Regions from separate parts of the Homo sapiens genome. Here regions 1, 2 and 4 are each reported to be linked to region 3. Evidence: microRNA targets listed by miRTarBase, many of them from high-throughput screens and not tested one by one. Region 3 holds a microRNA gene; each other region holds the end of a gene's coding sequence.

The links. The annotated mature microRNA hsa-miR-5702 reads UGAGUCAGCAACAUAUCCCAUG and lies in region 3 at 3,405-3,426, shown strand. An mRNA with a match to its seed (bases 2 to 7 or 8) in the 3' UTR can be bound and repressed. Matches are read on the target gene's strand: a 7mer-m8 pairs with bases 2 to 8, a 7mer-A1 pairs with bases 2 to 7 and ends in A, and an 8mer does both.
Region 1: miRTarBase lists SMAD2 as a target of hsa-miR-5702. Seed matches in the 3' UTR shown: 7mer-A1 at 2,841-2,847.
Region 2: miRTarBase lists OGT as a target of hsa-miR-5702. Seed matches in the 3' UTR shown: 7mer-A1 at 5,003-5,009.
Region 4: the mRNA of NEDD9 is a reported target of hsa-miR-5702. Seed matches in the 3' UTR shown: 7mer-m8 at 1,392-1,398.

Annotation. Positions count from the first base shown.
Region 1 is chr18:47,835,619-47,843,194 of GRCh38, reverse strand. It overlaps SMAD2 (SMAD family member 2), which reads left to right. Exons shown (of 11, transcript NM_005901.6): 11 at 1,245-7,576. The coding sequence ends at 1,368. Among named protein-coding and RNA genes, the nearest start is that of SMAD2, 91 kb to the left of the region's middle.
Region 2 is chrX:71,571,867-71,579,424 of GRCh38, reverse strand. It overlaps OGT (O-linked N-acetylglucosamine (GlcNAc) transferase), which reads right to left. Exons shown (of 22, transcript NM_181672.3): 22 at 3,533-5,805. The coding sequence ends at 5,631. It overlaps GCNA (germ cell nuclear acidic peptidase), which reads right to left and starts at 988. Exons shown (of 13, transcript NM_052957.5): 1 at 903-988. RefSeq lists an enhancer at 140-781.
Region 3 is chr2:226,654,570-226,662,145 of GRCh38, reverse strand. MIR5702 (microRNA 5702) reads left to right here and starts at 3,353; the gene lies at 3,353-3,436. RefSeq lists a silencer at 6,006-6,206.
Region 4 is chr6:11,178,108-11,185,626 of GRCh38, reverse strand. NEDD9 (neural precursor cell expressed, developmentally down-regulated 9) reads left to right here. Exons shown (of 7, transcript NM_006403.4): 7 at 1-2,329. The coding sequence ends at 465. Among named protein-coding and RNA genes, the nearest start is that of NEDD9, 51 kb to the left of the region's middle. RefSeq lists an enhancer at 1-603.

The sequences.
Region 1 (7,576 bases), not on the chromosome of region 3:
CTTTCCTGGCACCTCTAGCCTTTTTGGGTATATCAGAGAAGTTCCTGGGCACAGAAATGCAGATACCTGCAGTTGGAAGTTGTCTAGAGCACACTGAAAAATCCAAAGGGTACAGTGGGGCACTGATACCATCTGCCTCAGAAAGTGACATCCTTGGAAGTACAGTTTTAAATTACATTGAACATGTGTTGCTTGGAGATGAAGAGTTGATAATGGGCTTTTCTCATATTTGAAGGGCTGTTAGTTTGTAGAAGCAAGTGGATTTATTGACTTTATTCTGTATAGCAAATAAGATGGAACTAAAATCAGCGCATGGAAGTGACAGGATGTCATTGAATAATTTGTAATTCTCTTAGAGTTGCCCCTTTTGTTGAAGCACTATTAAAAGCCCGAATGGTGTTGCTAAGAGGGATGTTCATTGGCTTTGGCAGGGAAAGTTGAATTCCAGCTTTTAACACTCTCTGTGGTGTGGGTTTAGCTTGGGCCAAAATTTTGTTTTTGCTTTGGTATACTTTTACTTAGATTCTGTTTGATATTTGAGTATCTACTATTCTGTGGTTGATTTGGTAAGTACAGTTACTTTATGTCTTGGTTTGCTTGGACAATCCTGATTCACGTGTCTCCTTTTGGCCTGATTTTTTTCTGCCCCCCACCCCGAGACAGAGTCTCACTCTGTCGCCAGGCTAGAGTGCAGTGGCATGATCTCGGCTCACTGCAGCCTCTGCCTCTTGGGTTCAAGTGACTCTCCTGTCTCAGCCTCCCGAGTAGCTGGGACTACAGGCACACGCCACCACGCCCAGCTAATTTTTATATTTTTAGTAGAGACGGGGTTTCACCATGTTGGCCAGGATGGTCTCAATCTCTTGACCTTGTGATCCGCCTGCCTCGGCCTCCCAAAGTGCTGGGCTTACAGGTGTGAGCCACCACGCCTGGCCCTGGCCTGATATTAATAGTATCTACATTCTCTCTCAGGTGTTCCATTTTGGATGATGGTGAATAATAAGATCACCTTATTAATTTTAGTGCGATGAGAAAAAGATGTTCTTGTAAATCACTTCTAAAACAAGGTCATCAGAAGTACTTTGACTTTGAGGATCAACCATTTTGCGGAATAATCGTGTCCAAAATTATATACACAACCTTTTAATTTCTGTAAATTTTTAATGCAGTGTACCTAAACATAGCCATTTTCCCTGCCTGTGGACTTGAATTTCATAATCATTTTCCTGTATTCTTTTAAACAGAAGGCAGACGGTAACAAGTACTCCTTGCTGGATTGAACTTCATCTGAATGGACCTCTACAGTGGTTGGACAAAGTATTAACTCAGATGGGATCCCCTTCAGTGCGTTGCTCAAGCATGTCATAAAGCTTCACCAATCAAGTCCCATGAAAAGACTTAATGTAACAACTCTTCTGTCATAGCATTGTGTGTGGTCCCTATGGACTGTTTACTATCCAAAAGTTCAAGAGAGAAAACAGCACTTGAGGTCTCATCAATTAAAGCACCTTGTGGAATCTGTTTCCTATATTTGAATATTAGATGGGAAAATTAGTGTCTAGAAATACTCTCCCATTAAAGAGGAAGAGAAGATTTTAAAGACTTAATGATGTCTTATTGGGCATAAAACTGAGTGTCCCAAAGGTTTATTAATAACAGTAGTAGTTATGTGTACAGGTAATGTATCATGATCCAGTATCACAGTATTGTGCTGTTTATATACATTTTTAGTTTGCATAGATGAGGTGTGTGTGTGCGCTGCTTCTTGATCTAGGCAAACCTTTATAAAGTTGCAGTACCTAATCTGTTATTCCCACTTCTCTGTTATTTTTGTGTGTCTTTTTTAATATATAATATATATCAAGATTTTCAAATTATTTAGAAGCAGATTTTCCTGTAGAAAAACTAATTTTTCTGCCTTTTACCAAAAATAAACTCTTGGGGGAAGAAAAGTGGATTAACTTTTGAAATCCTTGACCTTAATGTGTTCAGTGGGGCTTAAACAGTCATTCTTTTTGTGGTTTTTTGTTTTTTTTTGTTTTTTTTTTTAACTGCTAAATCTTATTATAAGGAAACCATACTGAAAACCTTTCCAAGCCTCTTTTTTCCATTCCCATTTTTGTCCTCATAATCAAAACAGCATAACATGACATCATCACCAGTAATAGTTGCATTGATACTGCTGGCACCAGTTAATTCTGGGATACAGTAAGAATTCATATGGAGAAAGTCCCTTTGTCTTATGCCCAAATTTCAACAGGAATAATTGGCTTGTATAATCTAGCAGTCTGTTGATTTATCCTTCCACCTCATAAAAAATGCATAGGTGGCAGTATAATTATTTTCAGGGATATGCTAGAATTACTTCCACATATTTATCCCTTTTTAAAAAAGCTAATCTATAAATACCGTTTTTCCAAAGGTATTTTACAATATTTCAACAGCAGACCTTCTGCTCTTCGAGTAGTTTGATTTGGTTTAGTAACCAGATTGCATTATGAAATGGGCCTTTTGTAAATGTAATTGTTTCTGCAAAATACCTAGAAAAGTGATGCTGAGGTAGGATCAGCAGATATGGGCCATCTGTTTTTAAAGTATGTTGTATTCAGTTTATAAATTGATTGTTATTCTACACATAATTATGAATTCAGAATTTTAAAAATTGGGGGAAAAGCCATTTATTTAGCAAGTTTTTTAGCTTATAAGTTACCTGCAGTCTGAGCTGTTCTTAACTGATCCTGGTTTTGTGATTGACAATATTTCATGCTCTGTAGTGAGAGGAGATTTCCGAAACTCTGTTGCTAGTTCATTCTGCAGCAAATAATTATTATGTCTGATGTTGACTCATTGCAGTTTAAACATTTCTTCTTGTTTGCATCTTAGTAGAAATGGAAAATAACCACTCCTGGTCGTCTTTTCATAAATTTTCATATTTTTGAAGCTGTCTTTGGTACTTGTTCTTTGAAATCATATCCACCTGTCTCTATAGGTATCATTTTCAATACTTTCAACATTTGGTGGTTTTCTATTGGGTACTCCCCATTTTCCTATATTTGTGTGTATATGTATGTGTTCATGTAAATTTGGTATAGTAATTTTTTATTCATTCAACAAATATTTATTGTTCACCTGTTTGTACCAGGAACTTTTCTTAGTCTTTGGGTAAAGGTGAACAAGACAACTACAGTTCCTGCCTTTGCTGAGACAGCAGTTACACTAACCCTTAATTATCTTACTTGTCTATGAAGGAGATAAACAGGGTACTGTACTGGAGAATAACAGATGGGATGCTTCAGGTAGGACATCAAGGAAAGCCTCTAAGGAAAGGATGCATGAGCTAACACCTGACATTAAAGAAGCAAGCCAAGTGAGGAGCCAGGGGAGATAAGCATTCCTGGCAAAGAGAATAGCATCAAATGCAAAAAGGTTCACACTAAAGGAAACTCCTGATTAGGTATTAATGCTTTATACAGAAACCTCTATACAAATCCAAACTTGAAGATCAGAATGGTTCTACAGTTCATAACATTTTGAAGGTGGCCTTATTTTGTGATAGTCTGCTTCATGTGATTCTCACTAACATATCTCCTTCCTCAACCTTTGCTGTAAAAATTTCATTTGCACCACATCAGTACTACTTAATTTAACAAGCTTTTGTTGTGTAAGCTCTCACTGTTTTAGTGCCCTGCTGCTTGCTTCCAGACTTTGTGCTGTCCAGTAATTATGTCTTCCACTACCCATCTTGTGAGCAGAGTAAATGTCCTAGGTAATACCACTATCAGGCCTGTAGGAGATACTCAGTGGAGCCTCTGCCCTTCTTTTTCTTACTTGAGAACTTGTAATGGTGTTAGGGAACAGTTGTAGGGGCAGAAAACAACTCTGAAAGTGGTAGAAGGTCCTGATCTTGGTGGTTACTCTTGCATTACTGTGTTAGGTCAAGCAGTGCCTACTATGCTGTTTCAGTAGTGGAGCGCATCTCTACAGTTCTGATGCGATTTTTCTGTACAGTATGAAATTGGGACTCAACTCTTTGAAAACACCTATTGAGCAGTTATACCTGTTGAGCAGTTTACTTCCTGGTTGTAATTACATTTGTGTGAATGTGTTTGATGCTTTTTAACGAGATGATGTTTTTTGTATTTTATCTACTGTGGCCTGATTTTTTTTTTGTTTTCTGCCCCTCCCCCCATTTATAGGTGTGGTTTTCATTTTTCTAAGTGATAGAATCCCCTCTTTGTTGAATTTTTGTCTTTATTTAAATTAGCAACATTACTTAGGATTTATTCTTCACAATACTGTTAATTTTCTAGGAATGATGACCTGAGAACCGAATGGCCATGCTTTCTATCACATTTCTAAGATGAGTAATATTTTTTCCAGTAGGTTCCACAGAGACACCTTGGGGGCTGGCTTAGGGGAGGCTGTTGGAGTTCTCACTGACTTAGTGGCATATTTATTCTGTACTGAAGAACTGCATGGGGTTTCTTTTGGAAAGAGTTTCATTGCTTTAAAAAGAAGCTCAGAAAGTCTTTATAACCACTGGTCAACGATTAGAAAAATATAACTGGATTTAGGCCTACCTTCTGGAATACCGCTGATTGTGCTCTTTTTATCCTACTTTAAAGAAGCTTTCATGATTAGATTTGAGCTATATCAGTTATACCGATTATACCTTATAATACACATTCAGTTAGTAAACATTTATTGATGCCTGTTGTTTGCCCAGCCACTGTGATGGATATTGAATAATAAAAAGATGACTAGGACGGGGCCCTGACCCTTGAGCTGTGCTTGGTCTTGTAGAGGTTGTGTTTTTTTTCCTCAGGACCTGTCACTTTGGCAGAAGGAAATCTGCCTAATTTTTCTTGAAAGCTAAATTTTCTTTGTAAGTTTTTACAAATTGTTTAATACCTAGTTGTATTTTTTACCTTAAGCCACATTGAGTTTTGCTTGATTTGTCTGTCTTTTAAACACTGTCAAATGCTTTCCCTTTTGTTAAAATTATTTTAATTTCACTTTTTTTGTGCCCTTGTCAATTTAAGACTAAGACTTTGAAGGTAAAACAAACAAACAAACATCAGTCTTAGTCTCTTGCTAGTTGAAATCAAATAAAAGAAAATATATACCCAGTTGGTTTCTCTACCTCTTAAAAGCTTCCCATATATACCTTTAAGATCCTTCTCTTTTTTCTTTAACTACTAAATAGGTTCAGCATTTATTCAGTGTTAGATACCCTCTTCGTCTGAGGGTGGCGTAGGTTTATGTTGGGATATAAAGTAACACAAGACAATCTTCACTGTACATAAAATATGTCTTCATGTACAGTCTTTACTTTAAAAGCTGAACATTCCAATTTGCGCCTTCCCTCCCAAGCCCCTGCCCACCAAGTATCTCTTTAGATATCTAGTCTGTGGACATGAACAATGAATACTTTTTTCTTACTCTGATCGAAGGCATTGATACTTAGACATATCAAACATTTCTTCCTTTCATATGCTTTACTTTGCTAAATCTATTATATTCATTGCCTGAATTTTATTCTTCCTTTCTACCTGACAACACACATCCAGGTGGTACTTGCTGGTTATCCTCTTTCTTGTTAGCCTTGTTTTTTGTTTTTTTTTTTTTTTTTTGAGAGGGAGTCTCGCTCTGTTGCCCAACCTGGAGTGCAGTGGTGCGATCTTGGTTCACTGCAAGCTCCGCCTCCCGGGTTCACGCCATGCTTCTGCCTCAGCCTCCCAAGTAGCTGGGACTACAGGCGCCCACCACCACACTCGGCTAATTTTTTGTATTTTTAGTAGAGACGGGGTTTCACCGTGTTGGCCAGGATGGTCTCGATCTCCTGACCTCGTGATCTGTCCACCTCGGCTTCCCAAAGTGCTGGGATTACAGGCATGAGCCACCGCGCCCAGCCTAGCCATATTTTTATCTGCATATATCAGAATGTTTCTCTCCTTTGAACTTATTAACAAAAAAGGAACATGCTTTTCATACCTAGAGTCCTAATTTCTTCATCATGAAGGTTGCTATTCAAATTGATCAATCATTTTAATTTTACAAATGGCTCAAAAATTCTGTTCAGTAAATGTCTTTGTGACTGGCAAATGGCATAAATTATGTTTAAGATTATGAACTTTTCTGACAGTTGCAGCCAATGTTTTCCCTACGATACCAGATTTCCATCTTGGGGCATATTGGATTGTTGTATTTAAGACAGTCAGAATAATGATAGTGTGTGGTCTCCAGAGGTAGTCAGAATCCTGCTATTGAGTTCTTTTTATATCTTCCTTTTCAATTTTTTATTACCATTTTGTTTGTTTAGACTACACTTTGTAGGGATTGAGGGGCAAATTATCTCTTGGAGTGGAATTCCTGTGTTTTGAGCCTTACAACCAGGAAATATGAGCTATACTAGATAGCCTCATGATAGCATTTACGATAAGAACTTATCTCGTGTGTTCATGTAATTTTTTGAGTAGGAACTGTTTTATCTTGAATATTGTAGCTAACTATATATAGCAGAACTGCCTCAGTCTTTTTAAGAAGGAAATAAATAATATATGTGTATGAATTTATATATACATATACACTCATAGACAAACTTAACAGTTGGGGTCATTCTAACAGTTAAAACAATTGTTCCATTGTTTAAATCTCAGATCCTGGTAAAATGTTCTTAATTTGTCTGTGTACATTTTCCTTTCATGGACAGACCATTGGAGTACATTAATTTTCTTAATCTGCCATTTGGCAGTTCATTTAATATACCATTTTTTGGCAACTTGGTAACTAAGAATCACAGCCAAAATTTGTTAACATCAAAGAAAGCTCTGCCATATACCCCGTTACTAAATTATTATACATCCAGCAGATTCTGGGATGTACTAACTTAGGGTTAACTTTGTTGTTGTTGATAATACTAGATTGCTCCCTCTTTAATTCTTCTTCTGGTGCAAGGTTGCTGCTTAAGTTACCCTGGGAAATACTACTACAAGGTCAAATTTTCTAGTATCTTACAGCCTGATTGAAGGTGATTCAGATCTTTGCTCAATATAAATGGATTTTCCAAGATTCTCTGGGCCATCCTTGACCCACAGGTGATCTCGCTGGAGTATATTAACTTAACTTCAGTGCCAGTTGGTTTGGTGCCATGAGATCCATAATGAATCCAGAACTTCACCATTGCTTAGATATAAGAGTCCCTTGGAAGAATAATGCCACTGATGATGGGGGTCAGAAGGTGTATTAACTCAACATAGAGGGCTTTTAGATTTTTCTTCAAAAAAATTTCGAGAAAAGTATTCTTTTACCCTCCAAACAGTTAACAGCTCTTAGTTTCTCCAAATATGCTCTTTGATTTACTTATTTTTAATTAAAGATGGTAATTTATTGAACAATGAAATCCGTAATATATTGATTTAAGGACAAAAGTGAAGTTTTAGAATTATAAAAGTACTTAAATATTATATATTTTCCATTTCATAATTGTTTTCCTTTCTCTGTGGCTTTAAAGTTTTTGACTATTTTACAATGTTAATCACTAGGTAACTTGCCATATTTCTGGTTCTATATTAAG
Region 2 (7,558 bases), not on the chromosome of region 3:
CCCCCCACTTCCCTCAACGCCCCCATTGGCACCCCCACCTTCAATGCGGCCACCGGCGCCTCCACTTCTCCCCACACCGCCAGCGCTACTATGTGCTCCTATGCCACCAACGCCACCAAGTACTCCTAGGCCGCAACTGGCACCCCCACCTCCCCCCACGCTGCCACTGGCATCCCTACTTCTCCCCACCCGCCACTAGGGACACCACCTGTTCCTACACCACCACTGGGGCCCCCACCTCCCCCCAGTGCCGCAACCAGCGCCCTCACTTCTCCCCGCGCCGCCACCGGCGCCACGTATTCCTACATAGCCACTGGCGCCACCACACGCTCCTACGCCACCACCAGCGCTCCCACTTCCCCCAAGGCCGCCAATGGTGCCCCTACTTCTCCCCACACCGTCACTGGTGCTACCACATGCTCCTACACCACCACCAGCACCCCCACTTCCCCGACACTGCCACAGGCACCCCCACTTCCCCCAACGCCGCCACTGGTGCCCCTACTTCTCTCCACCCGCCACTGGCACCAACACCTCCTTCTACGCCACCACCAGGCCCCCCACTATCTGCAATGACGCCACCAGCGCCCCTTCTCCCCACGCCGCCACTGGCACTACCAGCTGCTCCTACGCCGCCACCGGCGCCCCCACCCCTCCCAATGCCGCCACTGGCGCCACCATATGTTTCCTACACCACCATGGGCGCCCCCACCTCCCCCAATGCTACCACTGGCGCCTCCACTTCTCCCCTCGCTGCCACTTCCTCTACTCCCACCTCAGGCCTACACGGGCAACCAGAGTCCAAGGTATACAGTGGTCCTGATTTTAATTAAGTCACTCAATTAGGATTAACCTCTGGACCACTTCAGCACCCATCTCAGTCCGACCAGCCGGTCACCTACCTGGTGTTGCAGCCTCTGGCGTGGCCGGCAGCAGCTCACCTCCAACTGCCCGTGGAGTGTGTGCAAAGATCCGGAGCAACTGCGATGAACAACGCCAGGCGCAGGCCCCTTTATAGTGCCCGGACCTAGGGGGCGGTAGCAGTAATTCACGTGTGCTCGCCCGCGCTCCCCTGTACCCACCTATCACAGTGGTCACAAGACAAATTTGAACTTCGCGCCTGTGAACTTGGCGCCTAGCTGTAACGCTTCCGGGATCAGGTCTGTCGCTTTCCACTCCCACGGATGTTGCTTATTTGTCCCAAAACCGCCATTTCAATACTAGAGCGTGGGCACCCGAGGCCAATTCTGCGATTAAAAGTCCCTAACAACTTTCTGATAAAGAGAAACCATGTGAAATCGTTCATAACAAACTTTTATCCTGCGAGAACTTGGATAAGCGAGCCTTGTTCCTTACTTGAATTGTCCAGACCTCTAAGTCCGTTATTGCAACCACTGGGAAAGGGCGCGGGGGGAGGGGCGGGGGCACGAGAACTGGAGCGAAGGCGCGGGAGCAGGGGCGTGGACGGGAACACCGAGGGGAGGGCGGGGCGCGGGGGGACGCGGGAGCGCAGGGGGGCGGGGGTTGCAGGGAAGGCCATCTAGACCCCTAGATAAGAGCAAGGCAGCAACTCAACAGCGCCTGGCAACGGCGAACTATGATGTTTACTTCCAGAACCCTCCAAACCCTGGAGATAAAAAAAGGTTACTTGAGGCTTTTTGGCACTCACTCCATACACACCAAGAAAAACAAACGGGGAAAACAGCGCTTTCTAGATTGTGCCAGTTTCTCCAGCGAGCATCTATATATTTCGTAATGTATGCCTTTGGGTAACAGAACACACATAAAATGTCCCTGCGTTTGATACTATTTTGTGCTAAGCATTATTCCAAGTGTCTTACGACTTAATTCATACAACACTTTAAAAAGTAGGCAACTGTTAGCACTCTCATTTTAGAGATCACACAGCTAGAAAGTGGCAGAGCTGGCCGGGCACAGTGGCTCACGCCTGTAACCCCAGCACTTTGGGAGGCTGAGGCGGGTGGATCACGAAGTCAGGAGCTTGAGACCAGCCTGGTCAACATGGTGAAACCCCGTCTCTACTAAAGATAAAAAAAAAAAAATAGCCGCGTGTGGTGGCCCGCGCCTGTAATCCCAGCTACTCGGGAGGCTGAGGCAGGAGAATCGCTGGAACCTGGGAGGCGGAGGTTGCAGTGAGCCGAGATCGTGCCATTGCACTCCAGCATGGGGACAGGGCGAGACTCCATCTCAAAAAAAAAAAAAAAAGTGGCAGAGCTGAGATTCAAACTCCAACTCTAGTTCCAAAACCTGCTCTTAAGCACCAGATTGCCTACCTAAATACAGATACTTTCTCAGTTGATAAAAAAATTGGATAAAGGGGGCTGATTACTCTCTCTCTCTACAATGAAGTTGCAAATTAACCTCTACAAGCCTCTTTATAAGAATGGGGATTACATAACTGTGCCTCAGAGGCTTGGGCAAAGAACCAGGATGTTAGCTATAATTGAGAGGCATATGCTTCAAGTAAAAGAATGGGATAGGTTTGGAATCAAATCTTAAAATGGGCAGTTCAGAAATTACACACATTTACTCAAGGTGTGCAAGCAACTCCTTTAGATTGAAGGCAGGAGGAGCTGAAGTAGACTGGAAATAATGTAGATTTTTCAAGAGAAGCGAATGGGAGTAAAAACTTTTGAGTAGGCTTTCTTCCCATAATAATCTTTTAGGAAACAAACACCAATCCACATGAGGGCTTTAAGAAGTTGGGAATTAAATCATGCAAAATTTTACTGAAAAAAATCTTCCCTCTCATATCTGAGAAAACTGGCAAACAGCATTTGCCATGATATCAATTCATGATATCAATCATGAATTGATATCTTCCTCCCTGATGCTTGTGGCAGAGTTCGACCACTATACAGAGCAGGAAGGAAAATAATTTTGCCCCCAAGAGCCAAGAAAAGAATGGTCCACATGAAAACCGAGACTACAAGGGTAAATGAAAGCAGAGAGGTCACAAGCAAAAGAGGAGCAAGCATGAATGGGTGTGTTGGGGATCACAGGCTTTGTCTTTTTTTTTTTTTGAGATGACATCTCACTCTGTTGTCCAGGCTGGAATGCAATGGCACGATCTCAGCTCACTGCAACCTCTGCCTCCCGGGTTCAAGCGATTCTCCTGTCTCAGCCTCGCATGTAGTTGGGATTACAAGCGTGTGCCACCACTCCCGGCTAGTTTTTTTGTATTTTTAGTAGAGACAGGGTTTCACCATGTTAGCCAGGCTGGTCTTGAACTCCTGACCTCAAGTGATCCACCTGCCTCCGCCTCCCAAAGTGCTGGGGTTACAGGCGTGAGCCACCACACAAGGCCACTTTGCCTTCTTAATGGATCATAAACTAACCCCACCCTCTACCAGACCTGGCTGAGAAAACAATTCCTAATATCATAGCTACAGTAGGGAAATTTGGTCCTTTCATGCTGTTTGGAGGTGTTTAAATATAGGTTTCATCATTGGATGACACTATTCTTCAGTCCAACACTCAATATAACAGGATACAAAATACATCAGCCGTATTAAAGGGAAATCATTCATTTATTAAGGATCGCAAGACAACATCTTAATTTCTGTAGTACGATTTAAATGTTTTACTTCTTTGATAAAGCAGAGTACAATAGAAAAAAAACAATTAGTTTCCAGTAATATCTATATCTCTAATCAGAATTAAGTCTTCCAAGACATATTACCTGGAAATAAAAGCCTGTTACAATAAGCAAAGCTTCAACCAGAGCGGCTACTTTTCGTGCCAGGAAAAAGTTCATCCCTATAGGAGGAATGATGTGCTATGTAAAATGGCTGTAAGGTCACAGCCTTGAGGGCATTGGAAGTATATTATCCTATTCCACATTAAGTATTTCAGCGAATTTCAAACATCAGTTTATCTGCAACCATGCTGGCAACCTTTAACTGATATTTCAATCAACCGGTAAAAAATAAATTAAGAAATCCCTTCACGGATATTCCGTGATTTACACTGTTAAAAGGTACACTGTTCATTAACATGTAATTCTGGTTCAGAATTACCTTTGAGACTCCTTGCTCAAAATTTGGTTAACAGTAAGAATCTTCCAGAAATTCAAGTTCTTATTAATCAATAATTTGTCAGCTAGGATACATTCAGGCATCAGCTGCAACTACAGAATAGGTGCACAGCCTCAGCGCTTTGGAAAGACATAATCTAGAACACTACTAGCAGACAAAAAATTACCTGCAACTGGATAGCGTAAGTGCAGTATAGCGAGACAAAACATATATTCATATGTTGGCTTGTTTAAGCCTCAAACCCTCGACCCTTTGTTGAGATCCCATAATTTTATTCCTATGATTTTAATAACTCAAGTTCCAGGAGGACTATAAGTCTAATTTGTACTCCAAACCAAACAGCAGTGCAGTTCGCTACTACTGAGGCTGAATCTGTACAGACTTCAAGACCAAGTCCAGAAGACAGTTATTATCTAAAAAATAATTACTTGAATACATAGATGATCCTTCAGAGATTTTACCTATAACCTATTTCTTGATGAAGGTTATTTAATGCACTGGAGATAACTGTGACTTACTGATCAAATACTTGAATACTTATACTTACCTGGGATTTCATTTCTGCTGAAAGAAATAGGAAGAACAGGACTCACTTAAAAAAAAAAAAAAAAAACTTTAGAAAGGAAGGTAAAAATCTTACACACACTATCACTTTTGGAAGCAGCATAGAAGGGGCAGTCAAGGGTAAAACACTGGTGAAACAGGTCAAAATTAGGAAAAAAAAAAAAACTATATTATTATCAATGACAGTACCACAACTGTGCCCTTGATAATTAGTAATCACTCCTAAAAATCTTCATTTGGCACCAGATGGTGTGTTTAAAACACCCTAGGATGTTTTGAATCAGGCTTGATTTTGTTAGTTGAGTTACAGGAGAATTTTAAGGGTGAGGGTATGGGGGTCAGGGAAGAAAAGGAAATGGGAAATGGACCAGAAAAAATCTTGAGTCATCATCTAAATCAACAAAGCACTGATAGCTCCAAATATTAGGTCAGACACTAAAACGACTGATATAGGCTCAAGTGGTTTATAAAACCTATAAAAAGACTACACCAGCAAAGTCCCTGTCAATCTGTCAGAGTTCAGAAACTAAAACAGGGAGTAACATTTTAGCTTAAAACCTTATCTCAAGAGAATCATATACACTTCACATGAATAAAAATACCTGAAACCAAACATTTTTAAAAGCTCCAGTACCCAAAATATAAAGAAAAAAAAATCCAGAAGACTGAATCAATCCATGGAATCACAAAGCGGCCGGACAATCTATATCTCCCCTCCACACTAACCATCCCATGGAAGACCAAGGGAGATCAGACCTTCCAGACCTATGCACCATCTGGTCGCCGCAAAATTCTACGGAGATTCCTTGTGGAAAAGCAGTTTCCCATCTTTTGTGTCTCTCCCTACCATGCAGGAAGCAAGTCTGGCTGTGCTATTCTATTACCATTATATATCACCCATCTGCAACAAGGTACTGTACAGACAAGTAAGAAGTATGTTATCTAGTTCCCTTTCCCCCAGAAGGTTGAGGCTCAGGTATAGGGGTAATTCTCCTGTGCAGTCTTTATTTATGCTGACTCAGTGACTTCAACAGGCTTAATCATGTGGTCAGGTTTGTTGCCAGCTGCATAATGCTCCCACATCTGTAGATAGAGCCGCTCTAGTTCCATTGTGTATTGTTTGGTGTTGAACAGAGGGCTAGATATTCTTTGCTTCCAGACTTTGCCACGAACTTTCTTCAGGCTGGGTAATAAAAAACAAGAACCCAGTTTACAAATCAGAGCAGAAACTCAGAAACACACCCTATAAATACCTAGTCGCATTTGTGGCAAAAAATGCATGACCAAACTCTACGCTATCTCATTTCTTGATTGGCTTCGTGCTAAAAAGGGAAGGGTCACATCTTGCATAATGCTAACACTGAAATGAGCTCAACTCCATATACTCTGAAAAAACTTAGTTCTTTCCTAAACAAGTATATCCAAGGGATACCACGCGTTCTCCATTTCGTCTTGTTTCTACCTTTAAAATAACAAGAATTGACAACGGCACATGACTATTCCTATGTACTGTTGCTTACCTTTTTGGTAAGCAATTTAGCAAGTATGTATTAACCTTAAATGTTCATAACCCTCTGGCCTAACAGTAACACTTTAAAATCTATTAAAAAGAAATAATCAGATGCAAAAACATACAGGACCATGCAAAGATATTCATTGAAGCATCATTTACAAAAGTTAAAGCATAAACATAAGATGAAGTATTCGATTTATGGTCATTTTGATGAAACAGAAAACCACTCAAGGGGAAAAGAAATACAATAAGTCTACTCTCGTAATTTTCCACTTGTACCTGAACTGAGTTCAGATTTTTAAAAATTGCTAATATCACCAAGAGTATGGTTCTGTTCAGAAAAATAAAAAAGAAGTAATTGATTCTTCAGGAAACACAGGGGAAAAGATTTCTACTTCCCTTTTGAATATATTTTTCATGAGATTATTCTTAGATGAAGGGATAAATACTTTAGAACCAGAAGCCAGAACATTTCTGTGCATTTTTAAAAGCAATAATTTTTATTTATTTTCTTTTAATTTTTGAAATAGAGTCTCACTCTGTTGCCCAGGCTGGAGTGCAATGGAACGATGATGGCTCACTGCAGACTGAACCTCCTTAGCTCAAGCAATCCTCCTGCCCCAGCCTCCCGGGAAGCTGAGACTACAGGCACGCATCACCACACTCAGCTATTTTTGTATTTTTTGTAGAGATGGGGTCTCGCCATGTTGTCCAGGCTGGTCTCGAACTCCTGGGCTCAAGCAATCCTCCTCCCTCAGCCTCTTAAAGCGCCGGGATTATAGGCATGCGCCACCACGCCCAACTTTGTTTTAATGTTTGTTGTGACAGAAGCAGTAAAATGGTTGTGCATATCTGTTGGTCTCAATACAACCATGTCCATATTAATGCTACCCTCCAAAGAGAAAGACCTGTGCACTCTATTTTTTTAAAATTCTATGCCAATAGGAAAATAAACTGTAGTGCATTCATACAGTGAAATACTACTCAGCAAAAGAAATAAACTTGATGAAAGAAGCCTTTAGAGTGCATATTGACATAGTTCCATTTGGATAAAATTCTAGAAAAGCAAAACTAATTTATGGAAGGGAAAAAAACCCTCCAGAACAGTGGTTGTCTCTGGGGGTTGGTGAAAAAGACTGACTGATAAGGAGCATGAAGAAACTCTCTGGAGTGATAATGTTTTTTGTCTTCATAGGAATTTGGGTTACAAAGGTATTTCTCGGTTGGGCACTGTGGCTCACACCTGTAATCCCAGCACTTTGGGAGGCCGAGGCAGGTGGATCACAAGGTCAGGAGATCAAGACCATCCTGGCTAACACGGTGAAACCCCATCTCTACTAAAAATATGAAAAATTAGCCGGGTGTGGTGGTACGTGCCTGTAGTCCCAGCTACTCAAGAGGCTGAGGCAGGAGAATCGCTTGA
Region 3 (7,576 bases):
GGCCAGGCAGTGAGAAATGACATTTAGAGGGATTTATAGGCAAAACAACAAGGTGCTAAAAATAAACAGTAATACTCATGCAGTGAGTCACTTTAGAGGCATGTATAAATTCTTCGCTGACACCGTAAGAACGTGGGAGAACTTAGCACATGAGGAGAGAGCGGGGAATGGAATTGGCGTGGACGGGGGAGGCGCAGATGACCTGCTAGTTGGTTCTGGCTAGATGATCTCTGCCCCACTTCTGTGAGGAGGCATCTGTAGTCACAGATAGAAGGAGTGGTGGTATTTTTAAAGTGAACTGTTGCGATGATATCTGCTTAGCTTTCTCATGCTAATCTCTTTCTGTGGTAAGTCCTTCTAAAGTTATTGATTCATAGCAGGGGTTGCACTTTAAATCTAAGGGATCTCTGCATGTTAGGAAGATTAAGGGGTGGGGAGTAGAGTTCACACACGTTGGCATGAGGGGCCACATTGTGTCTTGGGAGAAGGATGTCGTTGAGAAAAAGGCTGGGTTCGTGTTCTAAGTTCAATAGAAAACAACTCAGCATTCTGGGGGCAGGGTTAGTGTACAGGAACTACTCTCTTGGTGACTTTTTGGAAACGGATCCTATAAACACGTATTTGAGCTGGTGGGGTGTGTGTGTGTGTGTGTGTGTGTGTGTGTGTGTGTGTTTGGAAACGAAACACATGGGGAGAGTGACATTCATTAAAAATGTCTGGCCGAGCGTGGTGGCTCACGCCTGTAATCCCAGCACTTTGGGAGGCTGAGGCAGGTGGATCACGAGGTCAAGATATCGAGACCATCTGGCCAACATGGTGAAACCCCGTCTCTACTAAAAATACAAAAATTAGCCGGGCGTGGTGGCATGCACCTGTAGTCCCAGCTACTCGGGAGGCTGAGGCAGGAGAATCGCCTGAACCGGGGAGGCGGAGGTTGCAGTGATCCGAGATCGTGCCACTGCACTCCAGCCTGGTGACAGAGAGAGACGCTGTCTCAAAAAAAAAAAAAAAAAGTCTAAGGCATTCTTTCCTCCCTTAATTCCTTTCCTTCCCTAATTATTTGTTGAGCACCTACTATGTTCCAGGGCTGGCACTTGTCCTTGGAGCCTAGTGATAGGTACTCATCCTGCTTATATTTGAGGGGAACAAGATCCAGATGTACAAGGTAAAGCAAGCAAATGTCAGCTGGTGATGAAGACATAATCAGGTTAATGAAACTGACAGGGATTAGGGGCATGTGGGGGTGGGATTTCTTGGTGAAACTTGAGAGATGACAAAGAGCCAACCCTGCAAGGAGCAGAGTGTTTCAAGCAGTGAGAATGATGATTGCAGAGGCCCCAAGGAGGGAAGGAATTGGCATGCTCTGTGACCTGAAAGGAGGCCAGAGAGGATGAAGCAATAATGAACAGGGTTAGAGACAGGAAGTGAACTGGTCATTTGGAGCAGGGTTTCTCAGCTGCAATGCTACTATTGGCATTTGGGACTGGAAAATTCTGTTGTTGGGAACCAGGCTGTGTATTAGACGACATTTTGCAGCATTCCTGGCCTCTACCCACTAGATGCAAGTAGTTTTCCCCCAGCTGTGACTGCCACAAATGTCCTTTGGAGTTGAGAATGACTGGTTTGGGCTGTAAGCCCACCAAAAGGGAGGTGGGACCCCAAAGGAGAGTTACTAAAATGTCAAACAAAAAAGGCGATGGGTAATTTTATGTATCTGCTTGTCTGGGACACAGTACCCAGAAATTTGGTTAAACATTTGGATGTTTCCTCGAAAATATTTTTTAAATGAGATTAACGTTTAAATGAGTAAGTGCTGAGTAAAGCAAATTGCCCTCCATAATATGGATGGGTCTCATTTACCCAGTAGAAGGCCTTAAAAAAAACAAAGACTGACCTCCCCACAGAAGACAGAATTCTGCCAATAGACTGCCTCCGAACTCTGCAGTGTCATCTCTTCCCTGGGTCTCCAGCCTGCCGGCCTACTCTGCAGATTGGGGACTTACCCAAATTCCCTAAAATTGCACACCAGACCCCACTTTCTTTATACACACACACACACACACACACACACACACACTTTCCCTTTCTGTCTCTCTCTCGCTATTGGTTCTGTTTCTCTGAATATATATATATGTATAAAATACACACACAGACACACACAAACACAGACATACACTCTCTTTCTATTTCTCTCTCGCTATTGATTCTGTTTCTCTGAATATATATATATATATATATATATACATACACACACATATATAATACACACACAGACACACACAAACACAGACACACACACTCTATTGGTTCTGTTTCTCTGAATATATATACACACACACACTATACATGCACACACACTCACACATTTCTCATCTCTCTCTCTTTCCTATTTTCTCTGTTTCTCTGGAGAATCCTGACTACTAGACTACTACAGTCACTATTCTTCTCACTTTGGCACTGAATCCAGGGATTCCTGTGACCATTGTGTCGGGCGGTGCCTGGTAGGTGGAGCTGGCAGTGGAAGTGGCTGAAGCCACCGTATAGCCTCAGGACCCCCACAGAGAACACACACTTTGGCCGGGAGCGCAATTTTCTTGTTGTGGGGCCCAGAGCAGGGCTGGCAATGAGGCCCTGTCCAAAGCCTCACAGTTCAGAGAGGCCTCATGGAAAGACGGTAGGAAATAGCTGCAGTAAGGACAGGACAGAGGGAATTGGATGGTTTCTGGTGCACCTGAGGTCACCCCTGGGAACACTCTTACTAATGAGTAGATAGGATTTTCAGTGGGGCTAGAGATATATGAGAGGAGGTGACAGTCAAGGAGATAGGGCCACTGCTATTTTGTGGTGATATTTTTACACCCAGGCTGATGTAGGGGAACTGAGGATGGAGACAGAGGAGAAATATCTCAATGTGAGTGTGACTTAATTATCTGGTGGTCCTCAAATGGTGCACAGATAAGTACAGACTATGTACTTGCAACCTGGCTGCTGGCTAACAAAAAAGAGTGGCTGGAAAGAGGTAATATACACACAGGTGGCTATTCTCTACACATTTCCTGCTCCTTAGGGACTTAGAGAGTTGCTTACGTTGTCACACCAAAAAGCACTTTCTTTTCCTGAATATTCAGAAGTTGGATTCTTTCTCAATAGAGGCCAGAGTGAAGAGGAAAAGTGGTTTCTTCTCTGTTTCCTGTTAGGAAAACACATAGGTTTGATGATTTGGACCGGAGATTCAAGAGAAGTTTCTTTTTATAGATGTTGGTTTTGGAGTGAGTTCCAGCAGTCATTACAGGTATCTCTCCAGTTGTCTCAGTAAACTTGCTGTGACTTGGCCTTAAGAGGAGGTTTGGCGGCCTCAACTCCTGGGATATGTTGCTGATCCAACCTGAAATCCTTCTGTAGGTTGAGTCAGCAACATATCCCATGACTTTTGGGTGATAACTTCTTTTATGTAAGACCACAAAGCAAATGGCCCTTTCTCCATAGTGTTGAATTTCCCAGAGGCTATGACCAGGGATTAGATGGAAGTAAAAAAAGTTTAAGAGAGACTGCTAAAAAGCATTGAGTAGTACATAACTTGGCTTAGTCAAGCTCTTCAAGTGTTTGTGGAGAGCCAATAATACCATGGGTAATTGAGAAGAAAATGTGTTTATTTTCACACATGGGGATAGCTCCAGTGGAAATGAATCCCTTTAAATATTTTAATTTCAATGTACTCCATATTATAAGAGCTGCACATACACACACTCATACATTTAGTTTTTGGCTTGTATTGCTTTTACTATGACTGTAGTTTTGCAAACTTGATGTTACATAAGCACATAAAAGTTTTTCTTAAAAATGATGCAATTTTATCAAAATGATCTAAATATAAAATCTCAAAAAAGGCCATGTCAACACATAGTTAACCAAGTAAATGCAATTCTCACTGTTTGGGCCTTTATAAAAAATAATCTATAGTAGTACATATTTTGGGATATATGTGATTTTGATACATGTGATATTCATCACTCCATTTGTTTTTGTTGTTTGATATATGTGTATAATGTGTAATGATCAAATCAGGATAATCGGGATATTCATCACCTCCATTATTTATCTTTTCTTTGTTTTGGCATTTTGATAATCATTCTAGTTCACTAGTTCCTCACCTTCTCCCCCATGGATGCCGTTAATGGCTATCCTTCCTGTTGGTAATGGCCGCTCATACCAAGTTGCTGCATGGATAATTCTGCAATTTCCAGCTCCAAATCCTCTCCTTTCTCATGTGTTGATCTCAGATGCATCAATACTCTGCTGACCCAATATCATGGTTGGCAACAGCTGATCTACCTTGTAAGATGGTCAGTATGATAAAAGCACATTCAAGCAATTCAAATAAACTGGTGACCTCAAACTCTAACATGCAGTTTGGTATCATGCGGGTCTGTTCATTTCAGTGTTTTATTTAAATAAGAGGCATAGTTTTGTCAAACATTAACAAAAATTGATATTCCTTAATGGGGGAGTGTTTGTAGTAGGACAAAAACTTTGTTCTTTGTACTCAAGAGACCTTGATTTACAGTCAAATCCAAGAGGCTTTGAGCAGGTTACTCAACTTATTCTACATTTCAATTTTCTTATCTCTAAAGTGATGCTAACAATGATTGTCACTAACTCATACACAGCCTTCTTGTCGTAGTCACAATCAATAATGAGTGAAAGTGATTTGTAAGTTTCAAAGCACCAGGCATACGTAAGATTGCATTCATTCACCAATAATTATTGAGCACTTACTGTGTGTTGACAACTTTAGTTTAATCCGAGTTTAATATAGAGTTTAGGGTAAAAACAAGGTCCCTACCATCAGCGATTGCACTATGAGAAGCCCATGAAATAAGAAGTAACTAAAATTCTTTGGCCCCCACATGAAAAGTAATAAAAATTTAAATTCTGTGATAGATGAATTAGTTTCACAAAGCTTTAAATAGCATTAATGATTTTATTTTTGCACATTGTGTTCCATTTTGTTTTTGAGCCAAGTTGTAAGGTTAACACAGTATTTATTAAAATAGAACTCTTTCTTATTTTATAATTACAATAGAGAATCATTTAAATAAAAGGCTACAGGTATGCAAAAAGTAGAAACTGCAAGTACTTTGACTGGAACTGGGTATGAATCCCAGCTTTGCTCTTACTATTAATAGCTATGTGAGTCCATGAACTGACAGTTTCCTCTTCATCAAAATGGGGTTAATAAATATGAAAATTTTGTGAGAATTAGGAGAAAAGTGATTTAAAATGCCAAGCATAATAATTGGTGGGTATTTAATAAATATTTTATGTTTTCTACCTGTATTTTTACAGTTATTTTGAGTAGAATTAATTTTATATGTAATAGAGTGATCTGAAAAAATCCCAGTCTCTATGATATATATTTGCTTATTTCAGGTTCTATTTTTGCATAACAAATGTCTCGAAATCCTCAGCTCTCAGTGGAAGGGACTTCCTGGCCATTTACCAACTAACTGTCTCAAGGACTTTTCAGACAGTTGATCATTAACTCTCAGAAAACGCCTAACCCATAAATTATTCTGGCTGCTTTAAATTTTTGAGGAAAATGCACATTAATTTTTTTGTTTGTTTTTGCATAGCTTTAACCTCTAACCACAATAATTTCCCTGTGCGCACAAACAGTAAAGTGTCTTTTCTGAGTACTTAAAGACTGGGGCAATCAAAATCAGTAAATAATACAGTTTCGCTTTCATTATTCTTGGAATAGTTTTATTGTAAATTAGGAAAAGAAAATTTGCTGGATATAAAAAGCAAAAAATGTTTTGTCTTCTATTGGTTTCTTAAGTGTTGTGACTCAGAGCATATTAGATGAAATAACTTCTTCACTAATCAAAATAGATTATTTGCTCCTCAATTAAACTAGTAAATTCCAAAGAGATACTGAAAGTATGTCTTGAAAGTTTTTTAGGAGTTAGCATGACTATCATGGTGTCACATGCAAAGAAATGTCCTTCTTTTGTGAAGGAGGTTGGCATGGCCACACAGCCTGGACTTTGGTGTTGTAAGAACCATTTTCACACTGGACTGCAAATCATATTCTGTGATCTAGGGAAGTTAGCCAACTTCTTAGAACTTCAGTTTTCTCATCTCTCACGTGGGGCAAACACTGTCTGCCTCATGAGAAAGTCTAGAAGACTGCATTGGAGTATATATTCATATTTCCTATACACAGTGGACATGAGTAAATGTTTATTATTTCTCTGCCTCCCCTAACTAAAAATGCTAGGCTAGGTGATCTTAAAACTAAACACCCCTCATTTGTATGGCAGGTTACAAAGTGCTTCCACATACGATATCTCCTTTGATTTTTCAAAACAACCCTGGGAAGTTGGTAGGCTTGGACTTAGTATTGATACTATTTTACAAGTAAAAAGACAGTGCTCAGAGAGGTTATGAGACTTAGTAGCCCAAAGTCACTTGGCTGGTGAAGAAAGATGCTGGGAGAAGGTGCAGGCCATGTGGCCCCAGAGTCTGTGGTTTCCCCACTATACTTTGTAGGGGCCCATGGTTTTGTGGAAGATCCAAATGGCAAACTTGAATATATTCTTGTTATTTTCAGATGACAATTATATCAGTCAGGGTTCAACCAGAGAAGCAGAACTGGTGTGAGATTTATCACAACAAATTGGTTTATGCAATTGTGGGGACTGGTTAAGCAGGCCTGGGGTCCATAGGGAAGATGGTCAGAAGGGAAGTAATGAGCATGCCAGAACCCCAGAAGCATGAGCTGGAATGTGGAATCTTTCAACTCAGGGAAGGTCTAGGCCTTTCTACTGATTAAAGGACTTCCATCTTGATCAACAGGACTTCCCTATTAATTAACTTAAAGTCAACTGAGTAGGGAACTTAATTACACCTGCAAGATCCCTTCACACTGGCACCTGGATAAGAGTTTGCTGAATCACTAGGAGAAGGTAGGTACATGCTATAATATGGCTGCTGCCCCCTTTCCATCCTCCTTCCAGGAAAGGATATTCTTTGTAGGCCATGCTAGCCAGAAACAGACTAGAAAGAGAATTCTGGGGATTGTAGTTCAATTGATCCAGGTTGAAAAGTCGCAAAGCCAACACAATAACAAACCAAAGCCCACCACTGAAATGTCTTTCTCTAGTAATGTATTTCTCTGGTACCTGTGCAAACTTTCTAGTCATTGCAAGAGGTACTTGAGCAAACTGGACAAACTGATTGGTCACCATGAGTTTACTCCTAGCATTTCTGCTATCAGGTTCCAATGACAGAGCTTCTTTGCACACTGGATCTTGTGGACTGGATTTCTGGAAGATTCCCAGAGAAGTTCCACATTGAGAGTGTTTGTTGATAGATAGCACAGGTGCACATCTCACAGTTGAACTCGAGGTGTTTAACCATTTTAGGCAAAAGCAAAACAAAGCACAAACAGCCAAAACAAACAAAAAGGGGCAACTGTAGTGACAATAGTATAACAAGACCAACAGCAACACTAGAGAGTTATTAGTTCAAGTTTTATATTCTTCCCAGGACGACTGGGATTATTTGCTAACAG
Region 4 (7,519 bases), not on the chromosome of region 3:
GAGAATGACATCTCGAAGTGGAAGCCCTCTCAGAGCCTACCCACCACAAACAGTGGCGTGAGTGCTCAGGATCGGCAGTTGCTGTGCTTCTACTATGACCAATGTGAGACCCATTTCATTTCCCTTCTCAACGCCATTGACGCACTCTTCAGTTGTGTCAGCTCAGCCCAGCCCCCGCGAATCTTCGTGGCACACAGCAAGTTTGTCATCCTCAGTGCACACAAACTGGTGTTCATTGGAGACACGCTGACACGGCAGGTGACTGCCCAGGACATTCGCAACAAAGTCATGAACTCCAGCAACCAGCTCTGCGAGCAGCTCAAGACCATAGTCATGGCAACCAAGATGGCCGCCCTCCATTACCCCAGCACCACGGCCCTGCAGGAAATGGTGCACCAAGTGACAGACCTTTCTAGAAATGCCCAGCTGTTCAAGCGCTCTTTGCTGGAGATGGCAACGTTCTGAGAAGAAAAAAAAGAGGAAGGGGACTGCGTTAACGGTTACTAAGGAAAACTGGAAATACTGTCTGGTTTTTGTAAATGTTATCTATTTTTGTAGATATTTTATATAAAAATGAAATATTTTAACATTTTATGGGTCAGTCAACTTTCAGAAATTCAGGGAGCTGGAGAGGGAAATCTTTTTTTTTCCCCCTGAGTGGTTCTTATGTATACATAGAAGTATCTGAGACATAAACTGTACAGAAAACTTGTCCACGTGCTTTTGTATGCCCATGTATTCATGTTTGTTTGTAGATGTTTGTCTGATGCATTTCATTAAAAAAAAAACCATGAATTACGAAGCACCTTAGTAAGCACCTTCTAATGCTGCATTTTTTTTGTTGTTGTTAAAAACATACCAGCTGGTTATAATATTGTTCTCCACGTCCTTGTGATGATTCTGAGCCTGGCACTCCCAAATCTGGGAAGCATAGTTTATTTGCAAGTGTTCACCTTCCAAATCATGAGGCATAGCATGACTTATTCTTGTTTGGAAAACTCTTTTCAAAACTGACCATCTTAAACACATGATGGCCAAGTGCCCAAAAGCCCTCTTGCGGAGCAAATTTCAGAATATATATGTGGATCCAAGCTCTGATAGTTCAGGTGCTGGAGGGAAGAGAGACCTGTGTGTTTAGAGGCCAGGACCACAGTTAGGATTGGGTTGTTTCAATACTGAGAGACAGCTACAATAAAAGGAGAGCAATTGCCTCCCTGGGGCTGTTCAATCTTCTGCATTTGTGAGTGGTTCAGTCATGAGGTTTTCCAAAAGATGTTTTTAGAGTTGTAAAAACCATATTTGCAGCAAAGATTTACAAAGGCGTATCAGACTATGATTGTTCACCAAAATAGGGGAATGGTTTGATCCGCCAGTTGCAAGTAGAGGCCTTTCTGACTCTTAATATTCACTTTGGTGCTACTACCCCCATTACCTGAGGGAAACTGGCCAGGTCCTTGATCATGGAACTATAGAGCTACCAGGACATATCCTGCTCTCTAAGGGAATTTATTGCTATCTTGCACCTTCTTTAAAACTCACATATGCAGACCTGACACTCAAGAGTGGCTAGCTACACAGAGTCCATCTAATTTTTGCAACTTCCTGTGGCCAGTGTGTATAACCCCTTCCACTATCTCACAGATAGTCACAGCGTCCATTCCATAGTCTGTCTCCTCACATCTGTTAGTATTGACACAGCACAGACACCACAAGCCATCAGGTTCTTCATGGGGCAGGTGAAATACTTCTACCCCATGGGTAAATGTATTCACATATTACCAAGAGAAGAAGCACATTATCTATGATCTTTTGGCCCAGTTCTTATTTAGCATTTTTATTCCAGCCTACTTGGAAACATGTTTTTATTTGCAATATATGCCTGACTGAATTAAGCTTGCTTGTTTTAAACAACCAAATCATTGGAACAGAAAAGGATTTAAAAAACAAGAATGCATGATCTCAGAGTGATTAAAAAAAAATCAGTGGAAATAAATGATCATAGAAGGTGCTTTTCAAAACAACTGCTATTATAATTCTCAAAGTCCTACTCTGCCAAAAGAAGATTAAAAGTCATACATTACATTACAAGGAAATGTTCATGTGGGAAGAGGGTTGCTGAAAATCAACAACGCTTGAAGTTAAAAAGTGTGTCTTTGTAGATTTCATTGTATAATGTGTATTTCTTAGGAGATGGCTGACTTGATTGATCTACGCTAAGTGGAGACATTTCACATTTTTAAAACCAAATGTTCAATCTGTATTACTCTTTGCCGTCTTGTATGTAGAGGCTATTTTTAAATCATTAAATTTTTAGATCTCTGTTTTCATAGCCACTGGGTTTTCTTTTTCATACTCCTCTGTCACAGAATTAAATATTGGCTTACTTTGGTACTCCTAATATAAAAAGTTAAATTATGATTATTTTAGCAATGCTATAGGTCTGGATTTTTTTAGGAAAATTGAGGGTTTGGTTTTCTCTGTATATGTGTCACTTCCAAGTGTATTTGCATTCAAAGAAAATTCTAGAATCTGTGAACATTATCAAATTCAAATATCTGGAACAAGACTTGTGTTCACCAAAAAACCCATACACTCAGTAACATATAGGATGATTTGTTTTCATAATATGGATGTTACCAGTCATGTGGTTTTTAGAATCAAAGAAAATTTTTCTATTTGTTTTGGAATAGTCATAAAGAAATAATTTAAAGCAAACTATATTTAATGAAAATAAGAGATTTGTAATCATGTAATTATCATTTTTAATGGTTGGCCCACTCTTTTATTCAGGTATCCCACTGAGATTTACAGACAAATTATTTAAATGTATCATGTACCATTTTGCCCACACATATAAGCATTAATTTATTTTTGACAAAATGTCAAGGCACTTCAAGGAGGGAATGAAAACTCTTCCGAAAAAAAAAGTGGTGCGGGAACAACTAGATCTATGAAATAAAATGAATGTGTACCTTACGTTCTACCCAAAGATTAACCCAAATGGATCATAGACCTAAATGTAAAACTTAAAACTCCTAGAAGAAAACACAGGAGAAAATCTTTGTTATCTTAGGTAGACAAAATTTCCATATTTGAAACACTTTAAAAACTTAACTCAGAAAAAAAATGATTTATTGGACTTTGTCAACATTAAAAACTCTTATTCTTCTGAGGATACCATTAAAAAACCAAAAGTCAAGCCAGAAAATGGGAGAAAATACATCACATCTATCAGCCAAGGACTTACATCAGACTTAGGAGACAAAAAACTAAATTTTTTTAACTCGGCAAAAATTTGGAGAAGAAACTTCATAAAAGAAGACTTATGTAGGTAAATGGAAAAAGTAAATAAACACCACACCAAATAGAATCACTAAAATTAAAAAGACAAATGATACCCTGTGTTGGTGCAAGAAAGGGGAGCAAACATTGCTCTTGTATATCACTGGTAAGAATGTTAAACAGTACAAACACTATGGAAAACAGATTGGCGATTTCCTAAAAAGTTAAACCTATGTCTACCCTATGACCTAGCAATTTCTCTTCTAGGTATTTACCCAGAAGAAATAAAAGCATATGTCCATACAAAGACTTACATAAAAATATTTATAGCAGCTCTATTTGTAATAGCAAAAGCTAGAAAGAACCCAGATGTTTGTTCATCTATATGAATGAATAAAATCACTGCGGTATATCCACACAATGGAATACTACACAGAAATCAAAAGGAAAAATATTGCAACAAATAGCCAACATGAATGAACTTCAAAATCATTATGACGCAAAAAAGAAGCAAGACAAAAAGAATACATATGCTATGTTTCCATTTATACAAAATTTTAGAAAATTCAAACTAACCTATAGGGACAGAAAGCACATAAGTGGTTGCCTAGAGAGAAATGGTGGAAGGAATGGATTCCAAAGAAGTCCATGGAAACTTGGGAATGAAAGCAGTGTCCATTGTCTTGATTGTGGTGATGGTTTCACAGATGTATGCATGCCAAACCTCTTCAGATTGTACACTTTAAATATGTACAGTTTATTCTTTGTTAATTTTTTCAAAGTAAATGGTCTAGGCACTCCCATTAAAAGTTAGAGATTCTCAGCCTGGATTTTAAAATGCAAGACCAACTATATGCTATTTAAAAGATGCTCGCTTGAAATAAAAATACACAGATAAATTAAAAACAAGGGGATAGAAAGAGATGTACCATGTGCATTCTATTTTTTTCTTAAAAAGCCGGAGCAGCTATATTATTAACAGACAGAGTAGAATTCAGAACAAGGGCAAAGAGAGGCATTTCATGATAAAGGGATTAATTCATAAAAAAGACAAAACATTCCTAAATGTGTATGTACCAATCACGAAGTCTCAAAATACATGAAGCAGAAACTGATATAACTGAAAGGACAAATAGAAAATCTATAATGATAGGTAGAGATTTCAATACTTGTCTCTCAGTAATTAATAGAACAAGCAAACAAAACAAAATAAAACCAGTAATAATTGGTAAGAATGGAACTCTCTTCCGTTGCTGATAGGAGTGTAAAATGGTACAATCGTTTTAGAAAATGGTTTGGTAACCTCTAATAAAGTTAAACATATGCTTTCAACATAACCCAGCAATCCCAATCATAGATATTTACCCCCCAAAAAATGAAAACATATATCCATATGAAAAGCTAATTTCTTTATTCATAATTGTGCCAAATAGAAACAACCCAAATGTCATCAACAGGTGAGTAGATAAGTAAATTGTGGTCTATATATACAATGGAATACTATTGAGCAATGAAAAGGAGTGAACAAATTAGACATGTAACAACATGAGCAGATCAACCTCAGAAACATGCTGAATGAAAGCCAGGCAAATAAAGAGGAATTCTGTATGAAGCTCCAGAAGGCAGGAATCTAATCTGTAGTGACAAAAATTAGACCTGTGATTTCCTAAGGCCAGGGGTAGGGGTTGGCGATTATTTGGGAAAGAGCACGAAGGAGCCTTTTGGTAGGATGGATATGTTTTATATCATCACTGTCCAACACTGCAGAACTTTCTGCAATGGTAAAAATGTCTTCCATTTGCACTGTCTAATATGCTGAATAACAGTCACATATGGCTACTGAGGATTTGAAACATACCTAGTACAACTGAGGACGTTTTTCATTTTAATTTTAGCTCATTAGACTTGAAATAGCCACATGTGTTTAGTGGCTATTCTACTGGACAGCACGGTATCTATATCTTGATTGTTGCAGTAATTGTGTGCATGGATAAATTTGTCAAAACTTATTATAAAATACACTAAAAATAGGTGCATTTTATTGTATATAAGCCTTACCTGAATAAAGTTGATTTTAAAAAGAGGCAAAGCATTTCCCAACTAACTCTAATGCTCCAATTTTTCAAGTCAATATTATCAGCAGTTCACAGAAACATTGGCGGTTCCATAGAAAGAGAACAAACCGGAAAGCCAAGCTTCTAAATCCATAGCAGGCTACTGCTTTAGAGTCAATGATACTGAGCTCGTTCATGTCCCACCAGGAAGACAAATGTGGCTTCCTAACCCTGAGTTGGTAAAAGCCTGTCTGGGTTTTAGATGCTTCCCCATAAACCACATCTACATTCTTTATATTTTTGAGGGATTATGACAAAAGAAATATTGTCATTCACCAAAGAACATAAAAAACAACAAGGATTCACTTATTCATTGAACATTTCCTGCCTGGCCGGCCAGAGCAGGCAAATCTGCCCTGCGTATCAATAGAACCCCAGCTGTCTCCGCCAGAGGAGCTGGCCCCACCTCACAGCCAGTGTCTCTGTGTGCTCAGCAACGTGCTGTGGACCAAAGGGACAGGAGAAGAAGGGAGACGTGGATTCTGCCTCCCTTTGTTTGAAATAAAAAGTAAACATGTCCTTTAAACAATTGAAGGCAGATTATAGACAAATGTTTAAGTAATTTACAGGCAAAGACTTTAAAGTAGAGAGAATGAGAAAAATCAAAGTGATCTAGCTGGTGAGAAAGAGCTTTTTGCCAAGGGTGGGGTTGAAGAGGTTGATCATAAAGAAAGGTGTCTTTGTCTGTACTGTGCTGCTATCACAGAATACCAAACACTGGGTAATGTATAAAGAACAGAAATGTATTTCTCACAGTTCTGGAACCTGAGAAGTTCAAGGTTGAGGGCTCACATCCAGTGAGGGCCTTCTTGCTGCATCATCCCATGATGGAAGGTAGAAAGGCAAGAGAGCATGAGAGAGCAAGGGATTGAACCGGCAGCCTCAAGCCCAAAATTTTATAATCCCCATTAACCATGCATGAGGGTGGAGCTCTCCATACTTCCCATTAGGCCCCACCTCCAAATGCTGTTGCAAGGGGGATTACGTTTCCAACACACGCTTTTTGGGAGATACATTCAGACTATACCAGAAAGGCTAACTGGACGGCACAGGAAAGCCTGGCAAAGGCTGGTGGCCAGGACGGCGTGCTGCAGAGATGCAGTGGAGAGTTTAGGTGATGAGGGGCTCTCTAGAATCACACTGCAGCGACTTTGGCTTTGCATTTTGTACCTTCAGAGAATTCATTCAGAATAGACATACCAAATATTCGTTGGCCTAATGAAACTGGGCATTAGATGGCATCATATCCTTTCAAAGAAGAGAAAGGAGAGAAAGCAGGATGGGGAGCCTGGATGAGACAAAGATGATACAGATAGTGAAGACTATGAAAGGATAAAAGGGAGGGGATGGAGAGCAGAGGAGAGGAAAGAGCAGAGGAGAGAGACAGAGAGAAGAAGCAAGAAAGACCCTGACACAGGGTGATTAGAAAAGAGTCAGTGAAACAAGTAACAGACTGCAAGAGATACACAGTATATGCTAAAGCAAAATGCTATGTTCTTAGGTCATCTAGGTTCTCAAGATATAGTCAGAAACAAACAGTCAGTACATATTACTTGAAAACAGGGCTGCATTGTCATTTTGAAAAATACAACATCGTATATCAGTCTCTTGGAGAGACTTAATACTCGTGAGCATGTAAAAGGCTCTAGGCCGGGTTTGGTGGCTCACGCCTGTAATCCCAGCACTTTGGGAGGCTGAGGTGGGTGGATCACCTGAGGTCAGGAGTTCAAGACCAGCCTGGCCAACATGGCAAAACCTCATATCTACTAAAAATACAAAAATTAGCCAGGCTTGGTGGCGGGCGCCTGTAATTCCGGCTACTCGGAAGACTGAGACAGGAGAATCACTTGAACCCGGGAGGCGGAAGTTGCAGTGAGCTGAGATCACGCCACTGCATTCCAGCCTGGGCAACAGAGTGAGACTCTGTCTCAAAAAAAAAAAAAAGAAAAAGAAAAAAAAAGGGCTCCAAGAAGTCTTACAATATAAAAACTTGCCTTGTCTACTACTTCACAAAATTATTTTGACCCTAAAAGCTGTTTTCTCTCTTAACATTTATAAAAACCTGGTCTAGGATATTCAGATAGTTTTCGTTTTCCTCCCCCAACAAAAGGGTGAGGCCCGCC